Linked DNA regions of Homo sapiens: regions 1, 3 and 4 are each linked to region 2. The links come from fine-mapping of genetic effects on gene expression. A gene starts in region 2. Each other region holds a variant in brackets. All regions are shown on one strand. Distances are from middle to middle.

Region 1 (8,111 bases), 57 kb before region 2:
GCTCTTCATTTGTGGATTATGATTTACAAGAATTTGAGAAAAAAACCATAGCATTAAACACAAGGTCCAAGATTAATAAACCCAAAAAACTGAGCCCAGAGAAAACAGATAATTTAGGGAGCAGAGGAGAACTTGAAAAAATTATTAGTATCCTTAAAGATTTTCAAGAGGAGATTGCACTGATAAAATAATGAGGCTGCCAGGTGTGGTGGCATGTGCCTGTAATCTCAGCTGTTTGGGAGGCTGAGGCAGGAGGATCCCTTGAGCCTAGGAGTTTGAGGCTGCAGTGAGCTGTGATACTGCCATTGCACTCCAGCTGGGGCAACAGAGTGAGACCCCATTTCTGAAAACAGACAAACAAAAAACAGCTACGGTGAAAAAAAGAACAGTCAGTAAATACCAAAGAAAAGAATACTCGTAAGTAAAACAGGAATAATGGATTTGCTGACGACCAAGTTGATGTTCTGGAAAACGAAATTTACTGGAATGTAGAGAAATAAAATAAATGGTGGAAAATATGAGAGAAAACTCAAGGCATGGAGGATAGACCCAAGAAATTCAAGTTCCAGAACACAATTTTTCTTAGTTGGAGAAAGACAAGTGTCTTTAGATGGAAAAAAATCATATCAGCCATACAGAATTAGACAGAAAACAAACAAAAACCCAAAATACCCATGCCTAAACACAACCTGGTGAAATTTCAGAACTCTAAGCTAAAGAGAATATCTTAAAAGAATTAGAAAAAGCAAAACAGATTACTTACATTGGAATGAGAATCAGACTGATAGACTTCTCATCAGCAATCCTGTATGCTGGAAGACAGCAGAATACCGCCTTCAAAGTTTTGGTAGAAAATGATTTTCAGGGGGAGGAGCCAAGATGGCCGAATAGGAACAGCTCCCGTCTACAGCTCCCAGCGTGAGCGACGCAGAATACGGGTGATTTCTGCATTTCCATCTGAGGTACCGGGTTCATCTCCTAGGGAGTGCCAGACAGTGGGCGCAGGCCAGTGGGTGCGCGCACCGTGCGCGAACCGAAGCAGGGCGAGGGCCTCACTCGGGAAGCGCAAGGGGTCAGGGAGTTCCCTTTCCTAGTCAAAGAAAGGGGTGACGGACGCACCTGGAAAATTGGGTCACTCCCACCCGAATACTGCGCTTTTCCGACAGGCTTAAAACACGGCGCACCACGAGATTATAACCCGCACCTGGCTCGGAGGGTCCTACGCCCGCCCACGGAGTCTCGCTGATTGCTAGCACAGCAGTCTAAGATCAAACTGCAAGGCGGCAGCGAGGCTGGGGGAGGGGCGCCCGCCATTGCCCAGGCTTGCTTAGGTAAACAAAGCAGCAGGGAAGCTCGAACTGGGTGGAGCCCACCACAGCTCAAGGAGGCCTGCCTGCCTCTGTAGGCTCCACCTCTGGGGCCAGGGCACAGACAAACAAAAAGACAGCAGTAACCTCTGCAGACTTAAATGTCCCTGTCTGACAGCTTTGAAGAGAGCAGTGGTTCTCCCAGCACGCAGCTGGAGATCTGAGAACGGGCAGACTGCCTCCTCAAGTGGGTCCCTGACCCCTGACCCCCAAGCAGCCTAACTGGGAGGCACCCCCCAGCAGGGACACACTGACACCTCACACGGCAGGGTATTCCAACAGACCTGCAGCTGAGGGTCCTGTCTGTTAGAAGGAAAACTAACAAACAGAAAGGACATCCACACCAAAAACCCATCTGTACATCACCATCATCAAAGACCAAAAGTAGATAAAACCACAAAGATGGGGAAAAAACAGAACAGAAAAACTGGAAACTCTAAAAAGCAGAGCGGCTCTCCTCCTCCAAAGGAACGCAGTTCCTCACCAGCAACGGAACAAAGCTGGATGGAGAATGACTTTGACGAGCTGAGAGAAGAAGGCTTCAGAAGATCAAATTACCCTGAGCTACGGAAGGACATTCAGACCAAAGGCAAAGAAGTTGAAAACTTTGAAAAAAATTTAGAAGAATGTATAACTAGAATAACCAATACAGAGAAGTGCTTAAAGGAGCTGATGGAGCTGAAAACCAAGGCTCGAGAACTACGTGAAGAATGCAGAAGCCTCAGGAGCTGATGCGATCAACTGGAAGAAAGGGTATCAGCAATGGAAGATGAAATGAATGAAATGAAGTGAGAAGGGAAGTTTAGAGAAAAAAGAATAAAAAGAAATGAGCAAAGACTCCAAGAAATATGGGACTATGTGAAAAGACCAAATCTACGTCTGACTGGTGTACCTGCAAGTGATGGGGAGAATGGAACCAAGTTGGAAAACACTCTGCAGGATATTATCCAGGAGAACTTCCCCAATCTAGCAAGGCAGGCCAACATTCAGATTCAGGAAATACAGAGAACGCCACAAAGATACTCCTCGAGAAGAGCAACTCCAAGACACATAATTGTCAGATTCACCAAAGTTGAAATGAAGGAAAAAATGTTAAGGGCAGCCAGAGAGAAAGGTCGGGTTACCCTCAAAGGGAAGCCCATCAGACTAACAGCGGATCTCTCGGCAGAAACCCTACAAGCCAGAAGAGAGTGGGGGCCAATATTCAACATTCTTAAAGAAAAGAATTTTCAACCCAGAATTTCATATCCAGCCAAACTAAGCTTCATAAGTGAAGGAGAAATAAAATACTTTACAGACAAGCAAATGCTGAGAGATTTTGTCACCACCAGGCCTGCCCTAAAAGAGCTCCTGAAGGAAGTGCTAAACATGGAAAGGAACAACCGGTACCAGCCGCTGCAAAATCATGCCAAAATGTAAAGACCATCGAGACTAGGAAGAAACTGCATCAACTAACGAGCAAAATCACCAGCTAACATCATAATGACAGGATCAGATTCACACATAACAATATTAACTTTAAATGTAAATGGACTAAATGCTCCAATTAAAAGACACAGACTGGCAAATTGGATAAAGAGTCAAGACCCATCAGTGTGCTGTGTTCAGGAAATCCATCTCACGTGCAGAGACACACATAGGCTCAAAATAAAAGGATGGAGGAAGATCTACCAAGCAAATGGAAAACAAAAAAAGGCAGGGGTTGCAATCCTAGTCTCTGATAAAACAGACTTTAAACCAACAAAGATCAAAAGAGACCAAGAAGGCCATTACATAATGGTAAAGGGATCAATTCAACAACAAGAGCTAACTATCCTAAATATATATGCACCCAATACAGGAGCACCCAGATTCATAAAGCAAGTCCTGAGTGACCTACAAAGAGACTTAGACTCCCACACATTAATAATGGGAGACTTTAACACCCCACTGTCAACATTAGACAGATCAACGAGACAGAAAGTCAACAAGGATACCCAGGAATTGAACTCAGCTCTGCACCAAGTGGACCTAATAGACATCTACAGAACTCTCCACCCCAAATCAACAGAATATATATTTTTTTCAGCACCACACCACACCTATTCCAAAATTGACCACATAGTTGGAAGTAAAGCACTCCTAAGCAAACGTAAAAGAACAGAAATTATAACAAACTGTCTCTCAGACCACAGTGCAATCAAACTAGACCTCAGGATTAAGAAACTCACTCCAAACCACTTAACTACATGGAAACTGAACAACCTGCTCCTGAATGACTACTGGGTACATAACGAAATAAAGGCAGAAATAAAGTTGTTCTTTGAAACCAACGAGAACAAAGACACAACATACCAGAATCTCTGGGATGCATTCAAAGCAGTGTGTAGAGGGAAATTTATAGCACTAAATGCCCACAAGAGAAAGCAGGAAAGATCCAAAATTGACACCCTAACATCACAATTAAAAGAACTAGAAAAGCAAGAGCAAACACATTCAAAAGCTAGCAGAAGGCAAGAAATAACTAAAATCAGAGCAGAACTGAAGGAAATAGAGACACAAAAAACCCTTCAAAAAATCAATGAATCCAGGAGCTGGTTTTTTGAAAGGATCAACAAAATTGATAGACCACTAGCAAGACTAATAAAGAAGAAAAGAGAGAAGAATCAAATAGACACAATAAAAAATGATAAAGGGGATATCACCACCGATCCCACAGAAATACAAACTACCATCAGAGAATACTGCAAACACCTCTACGCAAATAAACTAGAAAATCTAGCAGAAATGGATAAATTCCTTGACACATACACTCTCCCAAGACTAAACCAGGAAGAAGTTGACTCTCTGAATAGACCAATAACAGGATCTGAAATTGTGGCAATAATCAATTGTTTACCAACCAAAAAGAGTCCAGGCCAGATGGATTCACAGCCGAATTTTACCAGAGGTACAAGGAGGAACTGGTACCATTCCTTCTGAAACTATTCCAATCAATAGAAAAAGAGGGAGTCCTCCCTAACTCATTTTATGAGGCCAGCATCATTCTGATACCAAAGCCGGGCAGAGATACAACCAAAAAAGAGAATTTTAGACCAATATCCTTGATGAACATCGATCCAAAAATCCTCAATAAAATACTGGCAAAACGAATCCAGCAGCACATCAAAAAGCTTATCCACCATGATCAAGTGGGCTTCATCCCTGGGATGCAAGGCTGGTTCAATATACGCAAATCAATAAATGTAATCCAGCATATAAACAGAGCCAAAGACAAAAACCACATGATTATCTCAATAGATGCAGAAAAAGCCTTTGACAAAATTCAACAACCCTTCATGCTAAAAACTCTCAATAAATTAGGTATTGATGGGA[A/T]GTATTTCAAAGTAATAAGAGCTATCTATGACAAACCCACAGCCAATATCATACTGAATGGGCAAAAACTGGAAGCATTCCCTTTGAAAACTGGCACAAGACAGGGATGTCCTCTCTCACCACTCCTATTCAACATAGTGTTGGAAGTTCTGGCCAGGGCAATTAGGTAGGAGAAGGAAATAAAGGGTATTCAATTAGGAAAAGAGGAAGTCAAATTGTCCCTGTTTGCAGATGACATGATTGTATATCTAGAAAACCCCATTGTCTCAGCCCAAAATCTCCTTAAGCTGATAAATAACTTCAGCAAAGTCTCAGGATACAAAACCAATGTACAAAAATCACAAGCATTCTTATACACCAACAACAGACAAACAGAGAGCCAAATCATGAGTGAACTCCCATTCACAATTGCTTCAAAGAGAATAAAATACCTAGGAATCCAACTTACAAGGGATGTGAAGGACCTCTTCAGGGAGAACTACAAACCACTGCTCAAGGAAATAAAAGAGGATACAAACAAATGGAAGAACATTCCACGCTCATGGGTAGGAAGAATCAATATCGTGAAAAAGGCCATACTGCCCAAGGTAATTTACAGATTCAATGCCATCCCCATCAAGCTACCAATGCCTTTTTTCACAGAATTGGAAAAAACTACTTTAAAGTTCATATGGAACCAAAAAAGAGCCCGCATCACCAAGTCAATCCTAAGCCAAAAGAACAAAGCTGGAGGCATCACACTACCTGACTTCAAACTATACTACAAGGCTACAGTAACCAAAACAGCATGGTACTGGTACCAAAACAGAGATATAGATCAATGGAACAGAACAGAGCCCTCAGAAATAAAGCCGCATATCTACAACTATCTGATCTTTGACAAACCTGACAAAAACAAGCAATGGGGAAAGGATTCCCTATTTAATAAATGGTGCTGGGAAAACTGACTAGCCATATGTAGAAAGCTGAAACTGGATCCCTTCCTTACACCTTATACAAAAATCAATTCAAGATGGATTAAAGACTTAAACATTAGACCTAAAACCATAAAAACCCTAGAAGAAAACCTAGGCATTACCATTCAGGACATAGGCACAGGCAAGGACTTCATGTCTAAAACACCAAAAGCAATGGCAACAAAAGGCAAAATTGACAAATGGGATCTAATTAAACTAAAGAGCTTCTGCACAGCAAAAGAAACTACCATCAGAGTGAACAGGCAACCGACAAAATGGGAGAAAATTTTCGCAACCTACTCATCTGACAAAGGGCTAATATCCAGAATCTACAATGAACTCAAACAGCTTTACAAGAAAAAAACAAACAACCCCATCAAAAAGTGGGTGAAGGACATGAACAGACACTTTTCAAAAGAAGACATTTATGCAGCCAAAAAACACATGAAAAAATGCTCATCATCACTGGCCATCAGAGAAATGCAAATCAAAACCACAATGAGATACCATCTCACACCAGTTAGAATGGCAATCATTAAAAAGTCAGGAAACAACAGGTGCTGGAGAGGATGTGGAGAAATAGGAACACTTTTACACTGTTGGTGGGACTGTAAGCTAGTTCAACCATTGTGGAAGTCAGTGTGGTGATTCTTCAGGGATCTAGAACTAGAAATACCATTTGACCCAGCCATCCCATTACTGGGTATATACCCAAAGAACTCTAAATCATGCTGCTATAAAGACAGATGCACTTGTATGTTTATTGCGGCATTATTCACAATAGCAAAGACTTGGAACCAACCCAAATGCCCAACAATGGTAGATTGGATTAAGAAAATGTGGCACATATACACCATGGAATACTATGCAGCCATAAAAAATGATGAGTTCATGTCCTTTGTAGGGACAGGGATGAAATTAGAAAGCATCATTCTCAGTAAGCTATCGCAAGAACAAAAAACCAAGCACCGCATATTCTCACTCATAGGTGGGAATTGAACAATGAGATCACACGGACACAGGAAGGGGAATATCACACTCTGGGGACTGTTGTGGGGTGGGGGGAGCGGGGAGGGATAGCATTGGGAGATATACCTAATGCTAGATGATGAGTTAGTGGGTGCAGCGCACCAGCATGGCACATGTATACATATGTAACTAACCTGCACAGTGTGCACATGTACCCTAAAACTTAAAGTATAATAAAAAAAAAAAAGAAAAAAAAAGATTTTCAACCTGAATATACCCAGCCAACTAATAGGTAAGTGTGAGGGCACACTGTAGACATGTTTAGATGTTAGGATCAGAATGCTTACTGTTCATGCATCTTTTAAAAAAATTGCTTCAGGGAAATAAAAAAAGAATACAAGAAAGAGGACACCATGGGTTGTAAAAGAAGGGAAAGATGTGAAAATTTCAGAAAATAAAAGTATGTTTTATAAAATTAATGCCTCTCCTTTGAAGAAATAAAACCAGGTATTGTTGACAGGATTGCCACTAGTGATTGAAACTGGTTAGGAAGACCTTTCACTTTGCATTTTATACTCTTCTGTATTATTGTATTATCTGCATTTATTTTTGTTTTGAATACAGATTACTTGCAGTCTTCTTTTTTTTTTTGAGGCAGAATCTCACTCTGTCACCCAGGCTGGAGTGCAGCCGCACAGCTTTGGCTCACTGCAACCTCTGCCTCCTGGATTCAAGCAATTCTCATGCTTCAACCTCCTGAGTAGCTGGCATTATAGGCGGGCGCCACCATGCCTGGATAATTTTTGTATTTTTAGTAGAGACGAGGTTTCACCATGTTGGCCAGCCTGGTCTCCAACTCCTGGCCTCAGGTGATCTGCCCACCTCAGCCTCCAAAGTGTTGGGATTACAGGCATAAGCCACCACACCTGGCCCATATTATCTTTTAATCCTGCTGTCAGAGACGTGTGAACCAGAGCAACTCCATTTTGAGTGAGGGCTAGCAAAATGAAGCTGGGACTTGCTGGGCTGTGTTTCTAGAAAGTTTGGTATTCCTAGCCTCTAGATGTTTATGGTTAAAGGAACAAATTAATAATGTTTACTGAAGAGACCCAGACTTGGGAGTGTCCAGATCAAAGGCATTTCTAATTTTGCTTTAAAGATAATAATGTTAATTCTTGCAAAATATAGTAATTAATAAATCAATCCTTTATCACAAACCCTTGTGATACAAATACAAAAATTTGCTGGGCATAGTGACACGGGCCTGTGATCCCAGCTATTCAGGAGGCTGAGGCAGGAGAATTGCTTGAACCCAGGAGCCAGAGGTTGCAGTGAGCTGAGATCACGCCACTGCACTCCAGCCTGGGCGACAGAGCAAGACTCTTTCTCTCAAAAAAAAAAAAAAAAAAAAAAAAAAAGATGATATGGAAAAAGTGTTGTGAAAGCTCTTACTTTTACATTCTAC
Region 2 (8,111 bases):
GTGTGATCCTAGCTCAATGTGGCCTCACACTGCTGTGCTCAAGTGATCCTCTAGCTCCACCTTCCCTAGTAGCTAGGAGGTCCTTCATGTCCATAATGTGGAAGTTACCCATTCCAGTATATAGATTATGTGCTGAGAATTTGGAGGCTGCTTCCATCAAGAATATCATATTATGCCAGGCGCAGTGGCTCACGCCTGTAATCTCAGCCCTTTGGGAGGCCAAGGCTGGTGGATCACCTGAGGTCAAGAGTTCAAGACCAGCCTGGCCAACGTGGTGAAACCCAGTCTCTATTAAAAATACAAAAACTAGCCAGGCATGGTGGCACACGCCTGTAATCCCAGCTACTTGGGAGGCTGAGACTGGAGAATCACTTGAACCTGGGAGACGGAGGTTGCAGTGAGCCAAGATCACGCCATTGCACTCCAGCCTGGGCGACAGAGTAAGACTCTGTCTCAAAAAAAAAAAAAAAACCCAAGAATATTATATTACTTGATTAAGAATTCTGCATGAAGAAAGTCAACCATGAAGAATGAGAAGAGTGTATACCTTGTAAGTCATCATTCCTTTCTTAACACCGGTGAAATGAGATGGAATTTTTCTGTCTTGGATCAGCTGAACTTGTGGGTTTTCTCTGGGTTAGGGGAGACAGGATGCTTTAAAATGACATTTTTCTATTTCTGGATGATATGGTGCATGAAATAACTTAAAAAACTCAAGTGGGTGTGTGTGGGAAATGAGTGGCTATGCAGATGAAACAAGATTGCATGGGTGATAGTCTTTGAAGCTGGTTGATGAGGACATCCAGATTCACCATATTTACGATTCTTTCCATATAAAGTTAAAAATGTCAGTTCTCTCAGTGTTTTCTACAGGACATTGGGGAAAAAAAGAGGGAGGTGAATGCTGTAATCAAAATTTTGAAAACAGAGTTTGGAAAACACTAGATCCTTTCCTTGAAAGCCACAGTGCGTATTAGCATGTTAAAGACTTAGGATTACTGCATTAAAGAGACCTTTTAAACACAGTTTAACCCAGTTCTATTCCCAAAGCTAACTTGACTATTGAAACTGATTTTTTCCCCATGTACACCTGTTAACAACTTGTCAAACTAGCATTTCATGGGTCACAGGCACTTCAGTTAGTCCGAGAACAAGAACCAAGGACAGTTTCCTCCTCTTTCTGCTGAGAACAGCTTTTCAGAATTGGGGAGGATTTATTTTTCTCGGATCACAGAGGAAAAGCAAGGGAACCACCTGCTGATTCAGAGTCAAGCTAATCCAGCAAACCTTACAGGGGGATCTCAGACTAGCTCCATGTGCTGGGTTATATACACACAGCAGGAAAAGACCATGTCTAGTGATAAAGGGAAAGGCATCCGGGGTCAGAGAGCCTGGGTTCAAATTCTGTCTCCACCATTCCATCTGTGTGACCATGGGCAAGATGCTTAACCTTTTTGTGCCTCAATTTCTTCATCTATAAAATAGGAATAATAAGTTTTACAAAACTTTATAGAATGGTTGCCAGATTTGGCAAATAAACATACAGGATGCCCAAATATTGCATGGGACTAAAAAATTATTTGCTATTTATCTGAAGTTCAAATTCAAATGGTCATCCCATATTTTATTTAACGACCTTATTTTAGAGGATTGTTGACAGGCTTATGTGATACAATTCATATTGAACACTCAGAACAGTGCCTTGTAAGCACTCAATTGCAGTAAGTACTTGCAGTAAGCACTCAATTGACTATTGGTTATTATCATTAATATTACCACTTTAGTTATGGGCATCTTTTAAAACAATTCTGGTTCTCCTAATAATTTTCTAAGAGTTATCTCATTTGTATAAATTAACCACTTATAGTCAAATATTCTCTTTAGTCAATAAAAATAAGAAACTGATGTTTATTGGCTTAAGTACTTAGATGGACGTTGTTTTATAAGGGCCAAGAAAGATGTATTAAATGGCCCTTCATCTACCATTAATGGAAGGAAATCATGGTAGGAAAAAATAGTTAACACTGGCTTTGTGCAATATTTGTTAATTTTTTTAGTTCTAAGAGAGCTAGCTTTGTATTTTGGCTTTCCTCAGGAAAGAATTAACTTGCAGTCCCTGAATATAGGAAACCCACAACAATTTGGTAGTCAAAGGAAGTTAGCCTGGGCTAACTTGGGTAAAACATGGAGGAGGGAATACATCATGTACAGTGAGCTTGGAGTAACTTGGATTTCTCAGAGGACTGCCACTCAACCAGCTTGTCACAGGTTTACAGTATTACAAGCACGGCAGATGCAGTACAATTTCTACAGTCCCTAAACTTGCCTCATGCACATGTTAGCAAGAAAACTACTGATAGAAGTACAAGCCTAGCTCACATGGGTTTCCCTAAAGAAGGCACACAGTATTATATATTTTTTTTCTGCACAGAAGTCTGACAGCTGGTGAATCATTTGTAAATAAATTGATAGTTTGTTTCACTGGGTTTTCTGTCATTGTTGACTCATGACCTAGTAAGGATTTACTGGACTATAAGAATAATGATTCAAATAAGCACATGGGTATCATATTTTCTGTAGAAAGTAAAGAGCTTTGAATATCCCATGCTGAAAAAAAAAAAAGCCTGAACTTTAATTTTTAAGGAAACAGTGACTTTCCTTCAAATTATAAAAATAATTTTTGAGTATTCTTGACAGAAAGAAAATTTACCTACTTATCAGCCCACTTTCACTATCTCAAATAAAAAAATGTAGGGAAGAGAAAGAAAACGAGAGAGGAAAGGCAAGAAGCAGCTTAGAGGCTTAGAGGCAGAGAAAGAGTGAAACAGAAGGAAAAAAAGATACAGAAACAGAAAATCAGACTCTTAGGTAACATGATGAATCCCCTTCACTTTGCAAACCCTCTTTCCATCTATTTTCAAACAATGTCAACAGTATATTTTCTTTTCTTGATATTATGCATCAGCCACCCCCCACCTTTTTTCATAACTGGTCACATGTGCCAATGATTTTAATCGTCAACTAAATCTATATATCAGAAAATCATCCTAAAATTCCAAATTTAGATTCACTTTTATGCTTCAAGGTTGTTTACAAATAGTTGTTCTAATTTCCTGATAAACAAAGGTGAAAGGACTACTTAATTCAGAAAATGACTGTTTTTTGGCTTGCAAACAAATAATGATTAAATTGAATGAAGCCAGCTCTTGGTACATAAACAGCGCCAGCTGTGGTTTCTTCTGGACTGGTGTGGCTGTCAAAAGGAATCTGAATTCAAGGCAGTTGTAAAGTAAGTAAATAAATAACATCAGCAAAAGCAAATAAAAAGCAACCCCTAAAAAAACAGCGACCAAAAAATATTTTTGTTAGGACACGTTAGGTCTTCATTAAGAGGAACTTGCAAAACTTGATTATTCACTTTCTGAGTTTGAACAGAGCCTGGTCTCTGGGAAACAATCCAAGGATAAGATGAAACCTGACGCTTGCCTTATCAGACTTTGCTGGGAACACAGTTTTAAGGAAAAAGCAATGAGAAAAGTCTACTTACCAAAGTCACAAACTTCAACTCCTTGGCTAGTACACTTCGGTCTAGCCAGAAAAAAAGCAGAAACAAGAAGCCAAGGCTAAGGCTTGCTGCCCTGGCCAGGAGGAGGGGTGCAGCTCTCATGTTGAGGAGAGCTGTTTCTGGCAGGAGTTAGGAGGAACTGCTACCACTTCAAAAGCCTGTAGAGGGGAAGCTATTTAATTAAGGGATTGAAAGGGAAGGAGGAGCCACACTCATAAGTAGTAAAGTTTCCAGGAAGCGTAGGGCAGGTTTGGTATGTAAATAATGTCATGTAAATTTTGAGCTGAGAGAGATCACAGTTTCCCCATTTAAGTTAGGACACCAAGGCCAAGAGCGGGGAAAGCTGTTGATCAAGGTCACAGAGCATGTTAGCAGACATTTCTATCCTTGTTTTCAGTTTACTTTTATCTTTGTTTTTTGTTTTTTTTTTTTTGAGACAGAGTCTTGCTCTGTCATCCAGGCTGGAGCACAGTGGCACAATCTCAGCTCACTGCAAACTCCGCCTCCCAGGTTCAAGCAATTCTCCTGCTTCAGTCTTCCTGAGTAGCTGGGATTACAGGCGTGCACCACCACACCCGGCGAATTTTTGTATTTTTAGTAGAGACGGGGTTTCACCATGTTGGTTAGGCTGGTCTCCAACTCCTAACCGCATGATCCGCCTGCCTTGGCCTCCCAAAGTGCTGAGATTACAGGCATGAGCCACTGTGCCAAGCCAGTTTACTTTTATCTTTTCTTTAGATAGGGTATGATACAGCGTTGGATTTGTGGCTGTCACTTGGGAAAGGGATCTACCCTGACTTTAGAAACCTTAGACCAGTGATTCTTAATCTGTTGGGAGTCCAAAGTTATAGGACTGAAATCTGGAAGGAAATACAGGTGTTGACATATTTGGGGCCTATTTCCATGCCAAACATGGCTACTTTTTCAAAAACTCTCATGTAGCCTATAGAGGTATTTTTAAATTAAAGAAGAAAAGTAACAGCAAGTTTATTTTGAAAAATTTTAGGCTGGGCGTGGTGGCTCATGTCTGTAATCCCAGCACTTTGGGAGGCCGAGGTGGGCAGATCACTTGAGGTCAGGAGTTAAGACCAGCCTGGCCAGCATGGTGAAACCCCATCTCTACTAAAAATACAAAAAAAAAAAATTAGCCTGGCGTGGTGGCACATGCCTATAGTCCCAGCTACCTGGGAGGCGAGGCAGGAGAGTCACTTGAACCCAGGAGGTGGAGGTTGCAGTGAGCCGAGATTGTGCCACTGCACTCCAGCCTGAGTGACAGAGCAAGACTCCATCTCAAAACACAGCAAAACAAACAAACAACAACAAAAAACAAACAAAAGAAAAATTTTAGTCACACCTTAAGACAATTGGACATTACCTGTGGTATCTCAAAATTAGATTGGAGGTCCCTTTCCAAACCTGACAGAGTTTTTTAAGAAAGCAAAAAGCCCAAACCTACAATTCTATATTATTAGTCATCAACTTTGGCCATAAGCCTTAAATTTTGAGTGAGTTACATCCTTGCCTCTCCAGCTATGATCTCACTGGGGACACTACAAAAGGCGATCCAGACTGATGGAACTTTGCTTTCCATTTTCCCCAACCTGTCAGTTCCATCATAGGCTAAAACAATACAAACTTGAGGTGCACATTGAGATTTTGCAAGATTTGGGGGCAGAGCTGCCTGTCATGATATTTCTATCATAATGGCAGAGGGAGAACAATGGTTTACCCGCAACCTGTTTCCTGGTACATTGCGCTTACCTGTGGCAGGAGGATTGTGTTCTTATGTGATCATAGGATGCCCTGGAATGTGGTATATGGGAGAACTGTTCCTTCTTCCGGCAGTAGGAAACATGCGCAAATAGGCTGGGCATGGTGGCTCACGCCTGTAATCCCACCACTTTGGGAGGCTGAGGTGGGCAGATCACTTGAGATCAGGAGTTCGAGACCAGCCTGGTCAATGTGGTGAAACCCCATATCTACTAAAAATACAAAAATTAGCCAGGTGTGGTGGTGGGAGCCTGTAATCCCAGCTACCTGGGAGGCTGGGGCAGGAGAATCACTTGAATCCGGGAGGCTGAGGTTGCAGTGAGCTGAGATCACACCACTGCACTCTAGCCTGGGCAATAGAGTGAGACTCTGTCCCCCCTCCAAAAAAAAAAAAAAATGTGCAAATAATAAATGCATGTGTGATTAGGATTAACCATTCAAGGGAACTTGCAACTTTCTCTTTGCCATCACATTCTCGACCTGCCAGTCTACACTGTCAATTTTAATGAGTAAGATTTTGAGGAAATGGGTGCAAGAAAAAGGAAATAAAAATTGGGAGGTTTTCCAGTCCAGGGCATACATGAAGTTGATACATTAATCCCTGCTGTGTGCACCAGGCAATCTGAGAAAGGAAGCTCCAGCACCTATGTACCATTCACAGGCAAATTTCTGAACCACATTTCTTAAATTGTGCCAGATGTCTGCTTCTATTGAATGCCTTATTTTCTCAGCTATCTGCCTGGGTCCTTGTTCTATCTCCTTCCTTGTCTCACCCTTGGACTGGTGCTTGGAACTATTTCAGCAATAGCCTTAGACCTTCCTGATAATGAAGACTGATTTTATAATCTACCTATACCATGTTGCACTGGTTGGATAAACCCTCTTTCTGACCTAGACCCTAATTTTTTCTGTGGTACCGCCTGTGGGGTCCTTTTAGCTCTTCAAGTGAGAAGGGCAACAACAACAAAGTTTTCTTTGAAAACCAGAAAAAGCCTGCTTGAATTGAATACATCTCAACTCAAACTTAATCCAAGTTGAATTAAATGGTTTATACTTCTATCTCAATCATCATCCTCACTTCCACTTTGATCATTCAGTTATAAGGGGAGAAGAAGTATTCAAAGTCATAAATGTAGAGTCTTGAAAAACCTGAACACCATGAAATGGAGTGTAAAAGATCCTCAACTCAGATGAAACCTGTTTTAGAATGTTCTGTGGCACCTTGAACTTTGAACTCAATAAGGTCTTTGCAAAGACATAAGGGTCATCTGGGATAAATATATGGATATAGTATGTATTAGTCCACGTTCATACTGCTTTGAAGAAATACCTAAGACTGGGTAATTTATAAAGAAAAATAAATTTAATGGACTCAAAGTTCCACATGGCTGGGGAGGCCTCACAATCATGATGGAAGGTGAAGGAGAAGCAAAGGCACATCTTACATGGCAGCAGGCAAGAGAGTGTGTGCAGGGAAACTGCCCTTTATAAAACCATCAGATTTCATGAGACTTAATCACTGTCACAAGAATAGCATGGGAAAAGCCCTCCTCCACGATTCAATTACTTCCCACCAGGTACCTTTCATGACATGTGGGGATTATGGGAGTTACAATTCAAGATGAGATTTTTGTGGGGACACTGCCAAATCATATCATAGTAACATCAAAAGTGAGATTTGAAAAAACACTGGGAAGTCTTTATGTAAGAGTTTAGGGTGTCAATAATTTTCCATGATTAGTAGGACTTACTGACTGAATCACTTGTGTTCTCTTGTTGTACTTCTTTCTCTATATGTCAAGTGCTCAACCTCAAATGAACTGTTCTAATGAACAGTTAGAAAGTTCCATAAGTGGAGCAGGTTAGGATTTTTGAAAATCAGACTCCCAGATAGATATTTGCATGTAGGAAGTTTATTAAGGAGTGCACTCAGGATTAACTCCAGTGGTGGGTAGAGAAATAACCAAGGTTGGGCAGAGGGAGAAGTTGATTTGTAATGCAATATTGTTGAAGATGTCAGCTGACCCTGTTACAAGTTCTGAAGATAGGAGGGCCTTTCAGGGTTGTCTTGAATTGAGGTGAGGAGCCAGGCCTTTTTTATTAGCCAGTCATTGGACGTAGTCTGCCCCTGGTAGGGAGTATGACCATGGATAAGGCAAAGGTGACTCTCTTCTGCCAAAATAATTCCCAAAGGGGTTGCTAGCTGAGTGATGTCAAACAAATTTCCAAGAGCTAGGAGCAATGAATCCTTGGGCAGTGTAACACAGAATCTATGATGATGAACACTTATAGGAAAAAAATTGTGATCCTTAGTAGATCACAGCCTATGAAAGCACTAAATATGCCTCTGACCATAAGAGTCTGAGTTGGGAGGTGAGATCCATCAGTAAGTATATGGCTGTTCACCAGCATCACAAGGAAGACTGTGTTTAACCTGTCTGGCTTCTTATGGCCTTCATAATTGTATTATTTGACTCTCAGGGCCTTATGAACTATTGGGTACTCAATAATACTGATTGACCAACTGTCAATATAAATGCAAATGACTGCATCAGAGCCCTGTTACAATGTGAATTGCTTTGAGGCAAAATTTAATAAGATGGCTTTAGAATAAATGTTCTCCTCTTCTCAAACCATCATTTTGTGGAGGGCCTTTTTGCCCTCGGCATAAAATAACTATTTTATTGTTTAGTATTTAGACAAACATCCCCCATAAAACCAAAGACTGTATCATAAGAATGTCATCAACTAAGGTGTGTGTACCTAGGGGATTCAT
Region 3 (8,111 bases), 25 kb before region 2:
CCTAAATTTTTTGCCCCAACCTACTTTATTCATCTCACATGAATTTGCTCCTGACCATCCTGGTTTCATACCTCATTCCCCTGGTTACAGCTTGCCTCACTCTTTATACCTGGTGTGCAGCCCTGCTTTTCTAGCTATAATTGATTCCTTTTCTGGTCAGTGATTTGAATTTTTTCCCTAGTTAAGTAGCCTCAGTGAACAACCTCCCAGTCTGGTCCAGCCCTAATATGCTTTGCCTCTATGCATTCTCTTGGGATTTTGATGGACTTGTCCTGATGCTGTGGTGAATAGTGTCTGTCAATGGCTGGAATCATGATGTGATTGTATTAATCTCAAAATGCCTTGAATATGTGTGTCAGCCTGACTTGGACCATCTCCTGTGGCTTGGACTTTCCTCATTACGTCAACCTGACATGATGAACTTTCTCTTCTTCTTTATCCCTAGTTTTAATACCTATGATAACCACATCTAAGTCTGACACCTCATTTGGTATCTTGGCCTGCCCATCCAGTTTCTCTCATAAGCCCCAACATCTGTCCTTGTCTTTGCTGGTCCTGACTTTTTTCTTCCATCCACTTATCCTGATTACAAGAATCCAGCATCCTCTTGCCTGGGTCTGCCTTCATATGACAGGGTGTCCTGTGCTACGAAGAGCCAGTTCTAACCAAGAAGAGGCATCACTGATAAATAAATCTCAACAGCTTTCAATGTCAATGAAAAATTTCAAGCTGTGTTATAAACTTGTCAATTGCAACATATTTTAACAGCACATAATTGGTCTGAAAAATATAACAATTAGCCTGAAAAATATATTTTATCGGCTTTCACAATGACTACCACTCAGGGTTTCAGGAAAACAGGCCACTTTTGTCATACCTCCCACTTGAAAAATTCATCATATAGGCCACAAGACACAATTGATTTTCATGTGGCTCAGACACAGATCCTTGATTTTTGATCTGGAGGGGATGGAAAGGATCATTTAGCTTTAGCTTTCATTTTCCAGATAGAAAACTAAGGGCTTGAGTGAGTAATAGTTATGATTATACTAACATATGACATTTATTGACAGTGTATTATGTACCAGGTACTGTTTGCTCTAAGCCATTTGAATACATACATTCATTTTAATACTCACTGTCTATGAAGTAGGTATCATTAATATCCCCATTTTGCAGAATGGAAGCTGGTGCAAGAGTGATTAAGTGAACTGTCTGAGATCACACAGTTGATTAGTGGAGGGAATGACTCAGACCTGGATCATTCAACCACAAATCCAATATGCTCCTCTCATTTTTTAATACTTACCCCCTTGGAGCCTAGATTTCTCTTTCTGCTTGTGAATTCCATAGAGGGACAGGAGGGACAATTCTGACAATTCTCTCAACTTAGTCATGGTGTCCTCAGTGGCCCAGGAGGGTAAAGTGAAATTGTGAACACTCTGTAGCAAAGAAAAAGGAAGAAAAATGTATGTGTATTTATATGACTGTCCTCTTTGTTGACTTATCCTTTTTCACCTCACAAGAACTAGTAGGGCCAGACTTTCTTGTCCTGCCATTTCTTTCTAAAAGAACTTCATATTGTGATAAGTAGTGGTATTGACTTTCAGAAGAAAAGCTTATATAAATGAATTTACCCATTCCTACCCAGTCCATAGCTTTTGGTTTAACTCTGGATCAGTGGGTGGCTCATATTTTGCAGAGTAAGGGTGCAGTAGGGAAATAATACCTCATTCCTTTATGAAAGGGTTAGAAATCTTTCTATGAACCTGACAGAGTTAAATGATATTTCCTTAAAAGCTGAATGGGCTGCCTGAGAGGCCAGTTAGGAAAGGCAATATATTTCTGGAGCCTTCAGTAATATATTCTCCCCTACCCCCATCAAGGTCTAGTTTGCTGACTTTTTTTTTCTTTTTTTTTTTTCAGAGACATTGTCTTGCTCTGTCACCAAGGCTGGAATGCAGTGGCCATCACAGCTCACTGTAACCTCAAACTCCAGGACTCAAGCAATCCTCCTACCTCAGCCTCCTGAGTAGTTGGGACTATAGGTGCATGCCACCACACGTGGCACTTTTTTTTTTTTTTTTTTTTGAGACAGAATCTTGCTCTGTCATCCAGCCTGGAGTGCAGTGGCACGATTTCAGCTCACTGCAACCTCCACTTCCTGGGTTCAAGCGATTCTCTTGCCTCAGCCTCCCGAGTAGCTGGGATTACAGGCATGCGCCACCACACCCGCCTAATTTTTGTATTTTTAGTAGAGATGAAATTTCGCCATGTTGGCCAGGCTGGTCTCGAACTCCTGAGCTCAGGCAATCCGCCCACCTTAGCCCAAAGTGCTGGGATTATAGGCATGAGCCACTACACCTGGCCACACGTGGCTAATTTTTAAAAGTGTTTTGTAGAGGTAGGGCCTCATTATGCTGCCCAGGCTCATCCTGAACTTCTAGCCTCAAATGATCCTCCCATCTCAGCCTCCCAGAAGTGCTGGGATTACAGGCAGGAGCCACCATACCTGGCTGTAGTTCACTGACTCTTGAGGAAAGCCTGCACCTTGCACACAGTGGATACTTGGTAAATATGCGTTAAATGAATGGTTAAGTACAAGCAGGGCAGGTGAGACCTTGTGCCAATATTTATTACCCGTTAGGAAGAGTTGATTAGGAGTCCCCCAGTTTCAAAGGCAGGATTAAGAGTGAGAGAAAGTGAGTTCGTGAAAGAGGAGACCAAAGTGGAGTGACCTACAGAGGAAATAAGTGAGAGAGATTTGGAAAAAATATCACATGACATGACCACATTTTGGAATAGCTCAGATCAAACTGTAGTAAGGAAGAAAAAAAAATTATGACTGGAACAAAAATGGGGGCTCTTGTTTTCACTGAAGAGTCTTTTACAATGCTAATGAATTTTCACTGAAATAGTTGCTGATGATTAAGTGAAAATACTGGGAAAGTAGCATGTGATTGGGTCAATTAACTTTAGGATGGATGGAGGCAAACTGTGTCATCTGTTATTAAGATAGAACTACGGAAGTAATTGCTGCCCCCCAGACTCTCACGATGACCTCAAAGTTAGAAGTCAATATGAATTAGGTGGGTGGTCAGAATCTTGCCCCATATTTAGTGAGCTAGTTGGGAAAACAGGAACAGAGAGTACTCCTTTTGGCCAGAAGGTGGAGCATGGTGAGTGAGAAACACCATGTAACCTTGAAAAGCAATCGTAATTTATCTGGCCACAAACGGTATTTCAAATGCATCGCAAAGCAAGAAAGAAGTTCTTTCTTGTTAAGCAAATATAAATAGCCTGGCTTATATTTTGCTTGTTTATTTCTACATTCGGAAATCAGGTAATTTTCCCCTCTTTCTTTATAACAACATTGTTTTTTCATTAAGACCAAGGACAGGAACCCAGCATTTTTGAGTGGCTGCAAAATAAATAAGCTCCTACTGAATCCAAGGGGGGAAAAAACTAAAGTGGAAACTCATAGAAGAAAAGCAATTTTGCTTGTAATTTTCTAAAGGGTGAAAACATAAATAATAATAGAGAGAAAAGAGAAGTCAGCATTTTCAAGTTAATATAAGGAAGTTGTGAATTACGTTTCAATGTCAAAAGAAGTATAAGTAATACATTCATAAAGAAGTGAAAGAAAAGATATTCATCTATTTCAAAATAAGCATAAATCATAAAATCAGATTGCAAGTTAACCTGTGATTTTTTTTTCTTTTACCTCACAATATAAAGGGTC[GTAGACTTTACTCC/C]AAATTCCAAAAAGGTCCTGGCCATGTAATCCTGAAAGTTTTCCCAAGGTAGCTATAAAATCCTGAAACACAAACAGAGAAAGAAAAATTCCTACACAGGTTTCTCAGCTTCAGCATTATTGATATTTTGGGCCAGACAATTGTTTGTTGTAGGGAGCTCTCCTGTGCATTATAGGATGTTTCACAGTATCCTGGCCTCTGCCCACTAGATGCCAGTAGCATTCCTAATCTCCCACTTGTATAACCCAGAATATCTCCCGACATTGCCAAATGTTCCTTGTGAGGCAAATGCGCCCCTGTTGAGAACCGCTGTTCTTCACAGAAAAATGCACCAGTAATATTGGTTACGATAATGTCATTCCAAAGAATTTTACAAACACGAATTGATTATTCCTTATTATTACATTTAAAATGTAGATAGATGCTGGCTGACTGCCACATGTTCCTGGTTCGTGCTGGAATTGGATTGAAGTGTACTGCCTCAGATTCTTTTTAGAAGTGGGTAAAGTATAACTCATGTGTAAATATGTCCCAGGTGAGAAAGGAAAGCATATTTCAGGCCAAAGCATCCTGGAACATGCAACACAAATAGGGCTTGGTCTTTGGCTATACATATAAAACTTGGATGGAATGCAAATCTTTCGCTAGGTTCTGTATGTTTCTTGGAATGTCGCAATAATGAGACCCAATGTTCAGCTATCTGACTGCTGAAATTGGCAGCCATTTCTGGGAAGCCTTTTTGGAAGATATTGTCTGTCTGATGGATGAAATTTCTAGGGAACTACAATTTGCCAATATTAACCTCAATAGATTTTCATAAAATAATAGAAATTATTGTTAAAGAGCTCCTACTGCCATCTTCTCAAACATAAAAGCTCCAGGGCCAGATGACTGTCATAGAGGAATTCTACCAAGCTTTTCAAGAGTAAATTATTCTAATGCTATTTTAACTGTTCTGGAGCATAGAAGATGAAAGAAAACTTTCAAAAACTTCTTATGAATTAAGTGTAACACTGATACTGACAAAGATTGCCCCCAAAATAAAACTATTAGTTCAATGCCACTTGTAAATATCAATGCAAAAGGTGTAAGTAAAATAACAGGAAGTAATTCAATGTCACATAAAAGGAAATGGGTTTGATTTGAGAAATATAAAGATTGTTCAACATTGGTAAATCTATGAATGTAATCAATCATTGTAATTAATCCAAGGAGAAAAATAATTTGATTGTATTAAAAAATGTTAAAACAATCATTCAGGAGATTAAACAACTAATATTGATTTAAAAAAATACACTCAAGAAAATAAGAAAGGTGGATATTTCCTTAATTTCATAAAAATATGTCTATTTTGGTTCAAAAGCCTGTATGCTTATTAGGAAAACTCCTCTAAAATCAGAAATAAGACAAGAATACCCGCTACCAACACTGCCCATAACATTATACTGTAAGTAGTGGCCAGTGCAAATAGGCAAAAGGAAGAAATCAGAGATACACATTTTTGAAAACTGGAGATACTGTAAACCTGAAACAAACTTAACAAAAAATGTAAAGACATATATGAAGAAAACCCTAAAATAATCTTTAAGATAAAACAAGTAGGAACATGTACCATATTCTTAGGAAGATTTGACAGTGAAAAGTTGCAAATTCTCCCTAAGTTAAATAAATTTAATATGATCCTAATGAAAATACTAAAAATTAAAAAATACTTTTGGAACTAGACAAGCTGACTCTGAAGTTCACAAAGAAAATTAAAACATAGCCATGGAAACTCAGAAAAAGCAATGAGGGATGACTAGCCCTTTAGATATTAAAGCATATTATAAAGTCTTAATAGTTAAAACCCAAGTTTTGGCTAATAAAAAATTAAACAGAATAAAAATTACATAAATAGACCCCACACCTATGGGAATTTTAATATATAATAGCTTCAATAAGTAGGAAAAAAATGAACTATTCAATAAACAATGATGGAGCAATTAGATAATCTTCCAGGAAAAAACTTAAACAGGATACCTTCTACCAGTATGAACTGTAAATGAATTCAATATATAAATGAGAAATGAAGCTAGAGTGGAATTAGAAGAAAGCATTGCAGACTTCCTTTATAACCTAGGAGTGGGGAAAGCTTTTCTAAACATGACTCAAAATATAGAAGCCATATAAGAATACATTGATACAGAACCTACATGGCAAGAACACGGTAAGCAGTTAATAGACAAACTTTTTTTTAAAAATGCCATTCATTATCTATGATATTGTGAAATATATATTTGGTCTTTTTTTTTTTTTTTTGAGACGGAATTTCGTTCTTGTTGCCCAGGCTGGAATGCAGTGGCGCCATCTCGGCTCACTGCAACCTCCGCCTCCTGGGTTCAAGTGATTCTCTTGCCTCAGCCTCCTGAGTAGCTGGGATTACAGGCGCCTGCCACCACGCCTGGCTAATTTTTTGTGTTTCTAGTAGAGACAGGGTTTCACTAAGTTGGCCAGGCTGGTCTCAAACTCCTGACCTCAGGTGATCACCCACCTTGGTCTCCCAAAGTGTTGGGATTACAAGCGTGAGCCACTGTGCCCGGCCTTCTATTTGGTGTTCATCTCCATTTTCTGCCATAGAATTCCTAAAATCCTTGGAGTCTCCAAAGTATGTCTTTTTGCATGCTAATGATTGATTGATGGCTGGCAGTCCCTGGCCAGCTTCAGGATGGGGGTTGGTCACCAGAAAGCCAAGGCCGGGATTAGAGCGTTGGGACTTTCAGCCCTACTTCAGAACCTCTGGGGAGGGGAGGGAGTTAAAATTTAAGTTGATAGCCAATAGCCTGTGGCTTAATCAATCATGCCTATGCAATGAAATCTCCATAAAAAGCCCAAAGGGAGAGGGTTCAGAGAGCCTTCAGAGAGCTGAACACTTAGAGGTTCCTGGAATGTGGTGGTCCTGAAGAAGGCAGGCAAGCTCCTTGACCTTTTCCTTATATCTTTTGTAATATCCTTTGTAATAACCAATAACTGTGTTTCCCTGAGTTCTGTGAGCTGCCCCTGCAAACTGATCGAACCCAAAGAGGAAGTTGTGGGAACCCCAACTTAAAGCCAGCCTGTCAGAAGTTTGGAGGTCTGGACTTTCATCTGTGTCTGAGGTGGCGGGTTGGGGGTGGCCAGTTTTGGGGCCTGAGCCCTCAACCTGTAGGATCTGATGCTATCTCCAAATAGATGGTGTCAAAACTGAATTGGAGGCCACCCAGCTGGTGTCTACTGCAGAACGGGCTGCCTTTTCTTGCAGAGAGATCCCCCATATTTGGTCACAGAAGTCTTCTGTCTGTGTTGATTGGTGTTTTCAAGTGAGAAAAATAGGAAAAAACACATTGAGTGTGTTTTTTTTCACACACAAAATATCACAGACAGAAATGTTAAAATACATAGAAAAAAGCTTCTAAAAACTTATAGCAAAAGGAAAATCAATCATCCAAAAGAAAAATAGTCAAGGGATATTGATATAAAAGGAAATATAAATGGCATTTAACTGATGAGAATACACGGACACATAGAGGGGAAGAAGACACACTGGGGCCTCTTGGAAGGTGAAGGGTGGGAGGAGGCAAAGGGTCAGGAAAAATAACCAATGAGTACTAGGCTTTATACCTGGGTGATGAAATAATCTGTACAACAAACCCCCATGACACATGTTTACCTATATAACAAACCTGCATTTGTACCCCTGAACTTAAAATAAAAGTTAAAAAAGAAATACAATATCAAAAAACAAACCAAAAAATGGTATTTAACTAGATGAAGATACCCAAACTCACTCATCACAAGAAGAAAAGTACTATAGCACGATGTTGTACAGTAGTTATAATAGTGAGCTTCCTTGTCTTATTCCTAATTTTAGAGGAGATGGATGCTTCTAGTGATATTATTTTCCACTTACCAGATTGGCAAATATCCCCAGAGTGGTCCACATACTGTTGGCAAAGTTGTGGAGAAATGGGCATTTGCATGCAGTGCTGATAGAAGTAGAAAGTAGTAAAACCTCTTTGGAGGGTAAATTAATAATATTTCAGATTAACCCAGAATGTCTACTTCTAGGATATTATCCCACAGGTATTCTTGTGAAACTATTTAGATGCACAAGTTATTCATACATGCTGTTTGTAAAAATGAAAGATTGAAAAATGACCCATATTCCTATCAATAGGGGCTGGTTAAATAAATTATGGCATAAATATAAATATTACACATTTGTTAAAAAAAAGGAAAAGAAAGAAAAGGAGGAAACTCTTTACATACAGATATAGAAATATTTCCAATATATTTTCTTAAATGGAAAAAAAAAAACAAAACAAAACCAAGGTGCCCAAC
Region 4 (8,111 bases), 27 kb after region 2:
CACACACACACACACACTTTGCTGAATACATCATCTAAGATAAATATACCCTCCTTTAGGAAGTATGGCAATATATTATCCTCAAAGGGGAATTACTGTAAGAAAAAATAGAACCCTTTGTGATGCTTAATGGGAAAAGCTTTGTGATAAGGCATTAAGGCATCCTCTGTTATGTCATAGTAAAAGTAGTAATGTTTTGGCATCCCGAAACATCCTAAATATATCCATTTTATCTCATTTCATTCTTCTTTTTTACATAATAAACTTAATAGAGTTGACAAGAGTGGAAACTGAGCAACCTGACATTCATACTCTTTATCTGAAACTGCTTATTAGAAATAATGTTGAAGAAAGAACTGGTATTCTTAGCATGAGAAAAGCAAAAATACTTCTGTAACATAATTTTGGATATTATATAGATACAGGAAAGAAAAAGATTTTTATACTCCCTATTTTGGAAAATGAAGTAGTGGCTTTCTTTTCTCATCTGTTTAAAATTAAACAATTAAATAATAATTATTGTGGTAATGTACAGACATTAGTGGATTTGACCAGTGATATGGTTTCTACTTGTTTCCCTGCTCAAATCTCATGTCTGAATTGTAATCACCAATGTTGGAGAAGGGGCCTGGTGGGAGGTGATTGGATACTGAGGGTGGACTTCCCTGTTGCTGTTCTCATGATAATGAGTGAGTTCTCATGAGATCTGGTGTTTTAAAAGTGTGTAGCACCTTCCCCCTCACTCTCTTTCTCCTACTCCCACCATGTAAGATGTGCCTGCTTCCTCTTTGCCTTCTGCCATGATTGCAAATTTCCTGAGACATCCTCAGCCATACTTCCTGTACAGCTTGTGGAGCTGTAAGTCAATTAAACCTCTTTTCTTTATAAATTACCCAGTTTCAGGTATTTATAGCAGTGTGAGAATGGACTAATCACACCAGATTATAAAGCTGCATGAATGTTTCAATCAGAAAAGTCTTTAATTCAAAAGGAAACCACAGGAATCACTATTTATTGACCACTTCTTCTCAGTCTCAGAAAGCCTGATAGGAGACTAGGGTTCTGTAGCTGGAGAGTTTTAAAGTTAGTGCTGCTTCCAGCGTAAGGTCAAGAGTCATAAAATATACCCCAAAATATCGGTTGCTAAAATATGCCAATTACTTGATTTAAAAAATACCTCAGCCTATAGAAAGTCTATCAAAAATATGTAATTGATTAATGTGCTTAGTACCACGTTTTCACTTTACAAAATTATTTAATCCACAAAACAATGACTCACATCAAATGACTACCAGTCCACCTTTCTCCAAGTTCCCTCTGGGACAGAGTTACTGTGCTTAATCCTAAATCATCAAATCCATTGTACCTAACTCTGTGGAATGTTTTTTTCTGAGTTAGTTTATTTAGTTGAAGAATTACTATAAGGCAGTGATTTTCAATGTGTTGCTTGGGGGTCCTGAGACCCTTCAGAGGGCCCCTGAGACTCCTTCAGGGAATTCCTGAGATCTAGTCAGGGGGCTTGTGGGGTCAAAGTATTTTCACACCGGCCAGGCGTGGTGGCTCATGCCTGTAATCCCAGCACTTTGGGAGGCTGAGGCAGGTGGATCATGAAGTCAGGAGTTTGACACCAGCCTGACCAACATGGTGAAACCCTGTCTCTGTTAAAAATACAAAAATTAGCTTGGCATAGTGGCACATGCCGGTGGACCCAGCTGCTGGGGAGGCTGAGGCAGAAGAGTCACTTGAGCCCGGGAGGCAGAGGTGGTGGTGAGCCGAGATTGTGCCACTGCACTCCAGCCTGGGCGTCAGAGCGAGACTCCATCTCAAAAACAAAACAAAACAAAACAAAACAAAAAACGTTTCACACCAACACTAAAATATTATTTTCTTTTTTATTCTCATTCTCTCATGAAGATTCACTGGAGTTTCCCAGAAGCTATGTGATGTGATGACATCATTACTCTCATGACAAATTGAATGTGTGCTTATGTATTCTTGTGTTTTAAAATTTTTTCAGTTTTAATTTTGAATATTGTAAGTATCAGTAGACACAACCCATATTAACTAAAGCTGTTAAGGATCCTCAATAATTTTTAAGGGTATAAGGGGGTCCTGAGACTAAATGTTTGAGAACTATTGCTATAGATAAGCTAATGATTCAAATGTTTTATTCATTCAACAAACATTTGTTGATTTTCTACTATGAGCAGTCCTTGGGAATGCCAAGGTTGAAAGACAAAGTCCCTGCCTCAAGGAGAATACTATGTTGTAGGAAAAGATAAACAATTATGAGATAAATCCAACAAAACAAGCACAGAATATACGGTTGCTCAGAAGAGAAACATTCATTTAATCATTTATTAACCTGGTACTTAGATCAATGAAAAAGACATGAAGGCATGAGGGAGCATGATGTGTCTAGGGAATTGCAAATGGTTTGATGGGGATATCTTGATGGTAATTAATTTCTTTAAAAAATAGCTCATTTCTTTAGCTATTATTGGTTATTTTGCTGTTGCTGTTATTATTATTGGATCATATTCAAAAGGATCCACTGAGTGCTATGTTGTAAATGTTTAACAACTGGCTCTGAAAAAAAGTTATAATTTTCTATAATTTGCAGCATTTTTCAATTTCCATGGTGAAAATACTCCTACTATGGCTGATTTGAAGCTACCAACATGATGTGACTTTACATGGAGGTGGAAAGAGACGGGCACACCATTATACAATATTCCCATTATGCAGACACAAGTGAAAATAACTTCAAGAGCATAAATAATAAAATGCAGTAAAATAATTTGTAAGTGATGAGTTTTGAGTATTCTTACCTTCATTTTAAATATAATTTATTTTAACATTTAATTTTTAGTAATGGCTGCATTTAACAACCAGTTGGCAAAATTACTGAAAGTTTAACAATTGGTTATTGTAAACCAGTACAAACTGGCTCCAGCCCACCACTGGATCTACTATAACATTAGTAATACATTGTTAATTATGCTGTTACTACAGTTTCCTCGTTTTGGAGGAGGAGGAATATGGGACATCCTAACTGAGAGACAGATGGGTAATTGTAAAACTCCAGTTGTG[G/C]GTGTGGTTGTGAGATGATGTGGGTGGCAGAGGAAGTTGTGCAAGAGCTTCAGCAAAAGGGTAAGGAATGGCAATTATGAAGGCAAGGTCAGAGAGTGAACACCAGATGTTTCGCCTTAGAAGAGAAAGAGAGGAAGAGAGGACACTATTTATGGAGTGCCTACTGTATGTTGTGCATGTGCCAGTCTCATGGCACGTTGTATTTCATCTAATCCTCATAACATACTTGAAAGGCAGATAGCTAAGTAGCACTGTGTAAGAAGACAAACTCAGGTCTGGCTAACTCCAAAACCGTTATTATTATTTATTTATTTATTTTTGAGACGGAGTTCCGCTCTGTCACCCAGGCTGGAGTGCAATGGCATGATCTTGGCTCACTGCAACCTCTGCCTCCCGGGTTCAAGTGATTCTCCCGTCTCAGCCTCCTGAGTAGCTGGGATTACAGGCACCCACCATCATGCCTGGCTAATTTTTGTATTTTTAGTAGAGATGGGTTTTCACCATGTTGGCCAGGCTGTTCTTGAACTGCTGACCTCAGGTGATCCACCCACCTCGGCCTCCCAAAGTGCTGGGATTACAGGTGTGAACCACCGCACCCAGCCAAAATCCTTATTCCTTTGATGTTATCAAACAAAGCTAGAAAGTTTACAAGAGAGTGGAATAGTGGTATCTAGAAGCAGAAGCCAAGGAGACAAATATGGAGGCTGGGGGATGTCACCAACAGCACAAGATCACAATGTATTGGACCTGGGAAGGTAACTGCTGGACAAGTCAATCTTCAGCATTCTGAAACAGCTTCCTACAAGGAATGTCTATGGCCATCGACAGAGAGGACATCCTGTTATAATGAAAGAGAATTCCCCTCTCCTTTTTCAGGAAATGCGAAGAGCTATGTGAACGTACCTTCAGCATCACAGGGATCAATGCCATAGTTAAAGGAATATGTTATAAGTAAAGCGCTTGAATTCAGAGCCATAAACATCTGATTTATGGTGGTCTATACAAAATTCCAACAAGAAAGGAGGAGGAAAGTTCCCAGGGAGATGTTTCTTCTCTCTGCTTTATTTCAATCATAGCTGCTATTAATGGTCTTCTTCAGCTTCTTCTCTCTGTTTTCCCTTCAATAGACACAAACAAGTTATTGCTGTGGACCCATAAATTATTGATCTTCCAGAAGTCTCCCCTCCTTCCATTGTACCTGCATCTCATGCTTTCTTCCTCACACCAGCCCCTAGACAGCATGAGAGCTGTTGGCCTTGCCCTGCACTTGGTTAGTGTGCTGGTTGGCTCCTCCAGAAAGCAAATGCCAAGACAGTTAGAAGGGCACTCAATTTAGTAGGAGTAATGGCTGATAAAGGAGTAGGGAGGGAAAGCCTTCAGACTATAATGCAGGTCCAATAACTGGGAAAGGAGAGTGGGAAGAAGGAGGATTGGGTCCGGAGAGCCTCAGATTAGTGCAACCCAGAGAAAGACAGCCTGCAAAATGGGGGCTCCAGTGCAATAGAGGAATCTTGAGTGGGGCAAAAAATGTTCAGGCCTGGTACCCCTGCCATGCTTAGTCATCTGGAGCTACCAGAAAAGAATGTGGCCTCAGGTCAAACACTAGAGTAGATCCCAAAGGCACTGCAGCTGGAGGATGTCAGCTAACTGCTCTCCTTGGAATTTATGGGCAAGTTTGTTTTTGAAAGCATATCTGAGGATCACACCTCCCTGGTTGTTTCTGTGAAGGGCATTTTTTATATTCTTGGCTTGGCATTGATGGGAGGAACAGTGGGGTCTCAGTCTAGGTAATGGGCTCCTGACCAGAGTCCCCTTCTCAGCCTCCAATGTTGGAACTTTCTTTGAAGCCTGTTGTCCACTATAGTATTCAGGATTCCTTTGGAGGCAAGTAACAGAAATCTAATCTAATCTGATTCATTTTAGGCAAGGAAAATAATTTTTTGCTTCATGTTACTGAACAAAAGAAAGGGAAAAGATCAGTGGGAACTTGGAATAAAACTGCCACTGACGTTCATCTATTCCATTCTTCTTTGCTCCCTGTTTGGCTTCAATTTTGTAAACTATGTATCTTTCCAATTGAAGCTAGGGCCAAGGCTGCTCTAAGCTTCACCTAAGAAGAAAGAGCTCTTCTCCTTCAATTTCAGTTGAAAAAACCTGGTTTTTATTTCCATGCCTATTGCCTCATATTCATTCATCCAAAAAAATATTTATGGAGTGCCTATATGTGTCGGGCACTGTTCAAGGTTCTTACAATGCTGAAGTGAACAAAATAGACAAGTTTCTTTTTAAAATGAAATATATTTTAGCAGAGAGAGATAGTAAACGAGTAACCAAATAAATAAACAGGATAATTTCAGATAATGATGAAACCATCCCTATAGACTTCAGAAAGTTAATCAGAGTAGAAAAGAGGGGGAGAAATAAAAATAAAGCAAGATCGCAGCACATTCACCATTAATCATGAGGTCAGCTTACTCTCTGACCTGCCTACTAAGAGTTATTCACTGCCTGTTACCCCAGAATCACACAGACCTGTCACCACTTAACTGTTCTGTAGATAACAACTTAAACATTGTGAAATGTTGTTTTCCATTTGAGATATTCTTTCAGGTCCTGCATACCAGTGAAACTATTGATGTCAACTGGTCTGAGGGACCTCACTGAGGCCCCATGAAAAGCTGACTTAACAAAGAATGCAATTTCCACATCCTGATTATTTCATTACGCTTACCTGACCAATTAATGACCTCAATTTTCTAGGCCCTTGCCCTCCATGATCCCCTTAAAAACCCCAGCGCAGAACATCTTGGGGAGATGGATTTGAGTCTCCTCCTATCTTTTCACTTGACCACTCTGCAATCATTAAACTCTTTCTCTGCTGCAAACCCTGTTGTCTCAGCCTATCAGTCTGATACTGCACAGCGGACATACAAACCCATTGGTCCTGTAACAGTGAGAACTACAGTGAAGACAATAAAATAAGGTGACATGACTGTGAGTGACTTGAGGTGGGGGATACTTTAGATGAGTGGTCAGAGAGGGTTTCTATGAGGTGACATTTGAGGTGAGACTTGAATGCAGGAAAGGGGAGAGCCATCAGAGCATCCCAGGAAGTGTAAAAACCCTGAGGCAGGGAGTGAGATTGTGGTCTCAGAGGAAAGAAAAAAGGCCAGAGTGACTGAAGAATTGTAAAAATGGGAAAGGGCAGGAGCAGACAAGGTCAGAGAGGTAGGAAGGTGTTGAATCACCCAGGATCTTGTTGAGGCCATGGTGAGGAGTTTGGATTTATTCAAAATGCAATGGGAAGCCAAATGGGGAGTTCTAATCAGGGGAGTGATATGCATTAAAAATTCTGTGGCTGCTTGTGAAGAATGAATTATGGAGAAGCAAAAAAGGGAATGAGAACAGCCAGGAGGCTACTGTAGTGGCCCAGGAAACAGATGATTGTAGCTTGGATCAGGGTGGATTTGGGGAAGTCAAAAGAAGTGAATGGACGAGAAAAATACATACTAGTATTGGATATGAGATGTGAGGGAGAAGGGTGAGAAAAGGAAAAAAGGAAAATAGCTCAGAGCAGTCTGAGCTATGTGAGATATGCAGAATTTATCAGGCTCAGAGAAACATGAGTATGGGACTTCAGTCACCTTCTCCGCTATGTCTGGGACAATTGTTTAAAGGTATTTTGTTCTTGACTAGCTGCTACATCCATTTTCTTCCTGTTTTTGTGATACAAAGAACAATATATAGCCAATCATTAGCTTATGTTATTTTAATGTAAATTCTTGGTAAACAACTTAGGAACTGCCTCTTCTTTTACTCCTTAAAACTTCAACTAGTAACTGCTACTAATCAGGGTGTATATTTATGGCAACTTGAATCTATGCCCCCATGTGGCCATCCTCAAGCTTTGGACTCCTATAAACTCTATACTTAATTTTTCTGGTCCTCATTATTTAAGGCTAACGGGAGAATCAAGGGGCACTCCTAGGCATTGGGCTTCAGAAATTGGGTGAATGGCAACAAAAGTGTCAGACACAGATGATGAAGCTTCAGAGAGACACAGGTTTATCTTATTCATTTAAGACATACTTTTATATCTCTTACTATCCTGGTTCTCAACCTTAGCCTCACACTGAAGTTACCTTAGAATTAAAAAAATAGGCTGCGTGCAGTAGCTCATGCCTGTAATGTTAGCACTTAGGAAGGCTGAGGTGTGAGGATAGCTTCAGCCCAGAAGTTCAAGATCAGCCTGGGCAACATGGTGGAAGCCCCATCTCTACAAAAAATAAACAAAGGTAGCTGGGTGTGGTGACTTTCCCCTATCTATAGTCCCAGCTACTCAGGAGGCTGAGGTGGGAGGATGGCTTGAACCCAAGATGGCTGCAGTGAGCCATGATTGTGCTGTTCTTGGATCTCACGCAAGAATTTGAGGCATATCCATAAAGTGAAAACAAGTTTATTGAGAAAGTAAAGAAGCAAAAGAATGGCTACTCCATAGGCACAGCAGCCCCAAGGGCTGCTGGTTGCCGATTTTTATGTTTATTGATTATATGCTAAACGAGGGGCGAATTATTCATGAGTTTTCCAGAAAAGGGGTGGGCAATTCCTAGAACTGACAATTCCTCCCCTTTTTAGACCATATAGGGTAACTTCTTGAAATTGCCATGGCATTTATAGACTGTCATGGCACTGCTGGGCATATCTTTTAGCATGATAATGCATTATAGTTAGTGCATATAATTAATGTACATGTCTTTGTGACCTGTACTTTGTGCCAACCTTTTATCTGATCCTGTGACTTAGAATGCCTAATCTCCTGGGAACGCAGCCCAGTAGGTCTCAGCCTTATTTTACCCAGCCCCTTTTCAAGATGGAGTTGCTCTGGTTCAAAGGCCTCTGACAATGCCACTGCACTCCAGCCTGGCTGATAGGGCAAGAGCCTGTCTCAAAACAAAATAACAACAATAAAACCCTGTGCCTAATTAGTTATTAGAGAATTTTTTGGAGATTTTAATTTA

What was found.
Region 1: its variant is fine-mapped to the expression of ACP3 in whole blood (INTERVAL, PIP above 0.99).
Region 3: its variant is fine-mapped to the expression of ACP3 in whole blood (TOPMed, PIP above 0.99).
Region 4: its variant is fine-mapped to the expression of ACP3 in blood mononuclear cells (TOPMed, PIP above 0.99).

Annotation. Positions count from the first base shown.
Region 1 is chr3:132,370,015-132,378,125 of GRCh38, reverse strand. LOC124909435 (a long non-coding RNA gene) reads right to left here and starts at 1,337. Exons shown (of 2, transcript XR_007096093.1): 1 at 764-1,337. The variant A/T (reference allele first, on the strand shown) is at 4,722.
Region 2 is chr3:132,313,013-132,321,123 of GRCh38, reverse strand. ACP3 (acid phosphatase 3) reads right to left here and starts at 3,717. Exons shown (of 10, transcript NM_001099.5): 1 at 3,548-3,717. The coding sequence starts at 3,667.
Region 3 is chr3:132,338,258-132,346,368 of GRCh38, reverse strand. ACP3 (acid phosphatase 3) reads right to left here. Exons shown (of 10, transcript NM_001099.5): 6 at 3,725-3,817; 7 at 1,310-1,442. Among named protein-coding and RNA genes, the nearest start is that of ACP3, 25 kb to the right of the region's middle. The variant GTAGACTTTACTCC/C (reference allele first, on the strand shown) is at 3,743.
Region 4 is chr3:132,286,084-132,294,194 of GRCh38, reverse strand. No RefSeq gene overlaps it. Among named protein-coding and RNA genes, the nearest start is that of ACP3, 27 kb to the left of the region's middle. The variant G/C (reference allele first, on the strand shown) is at 3,094.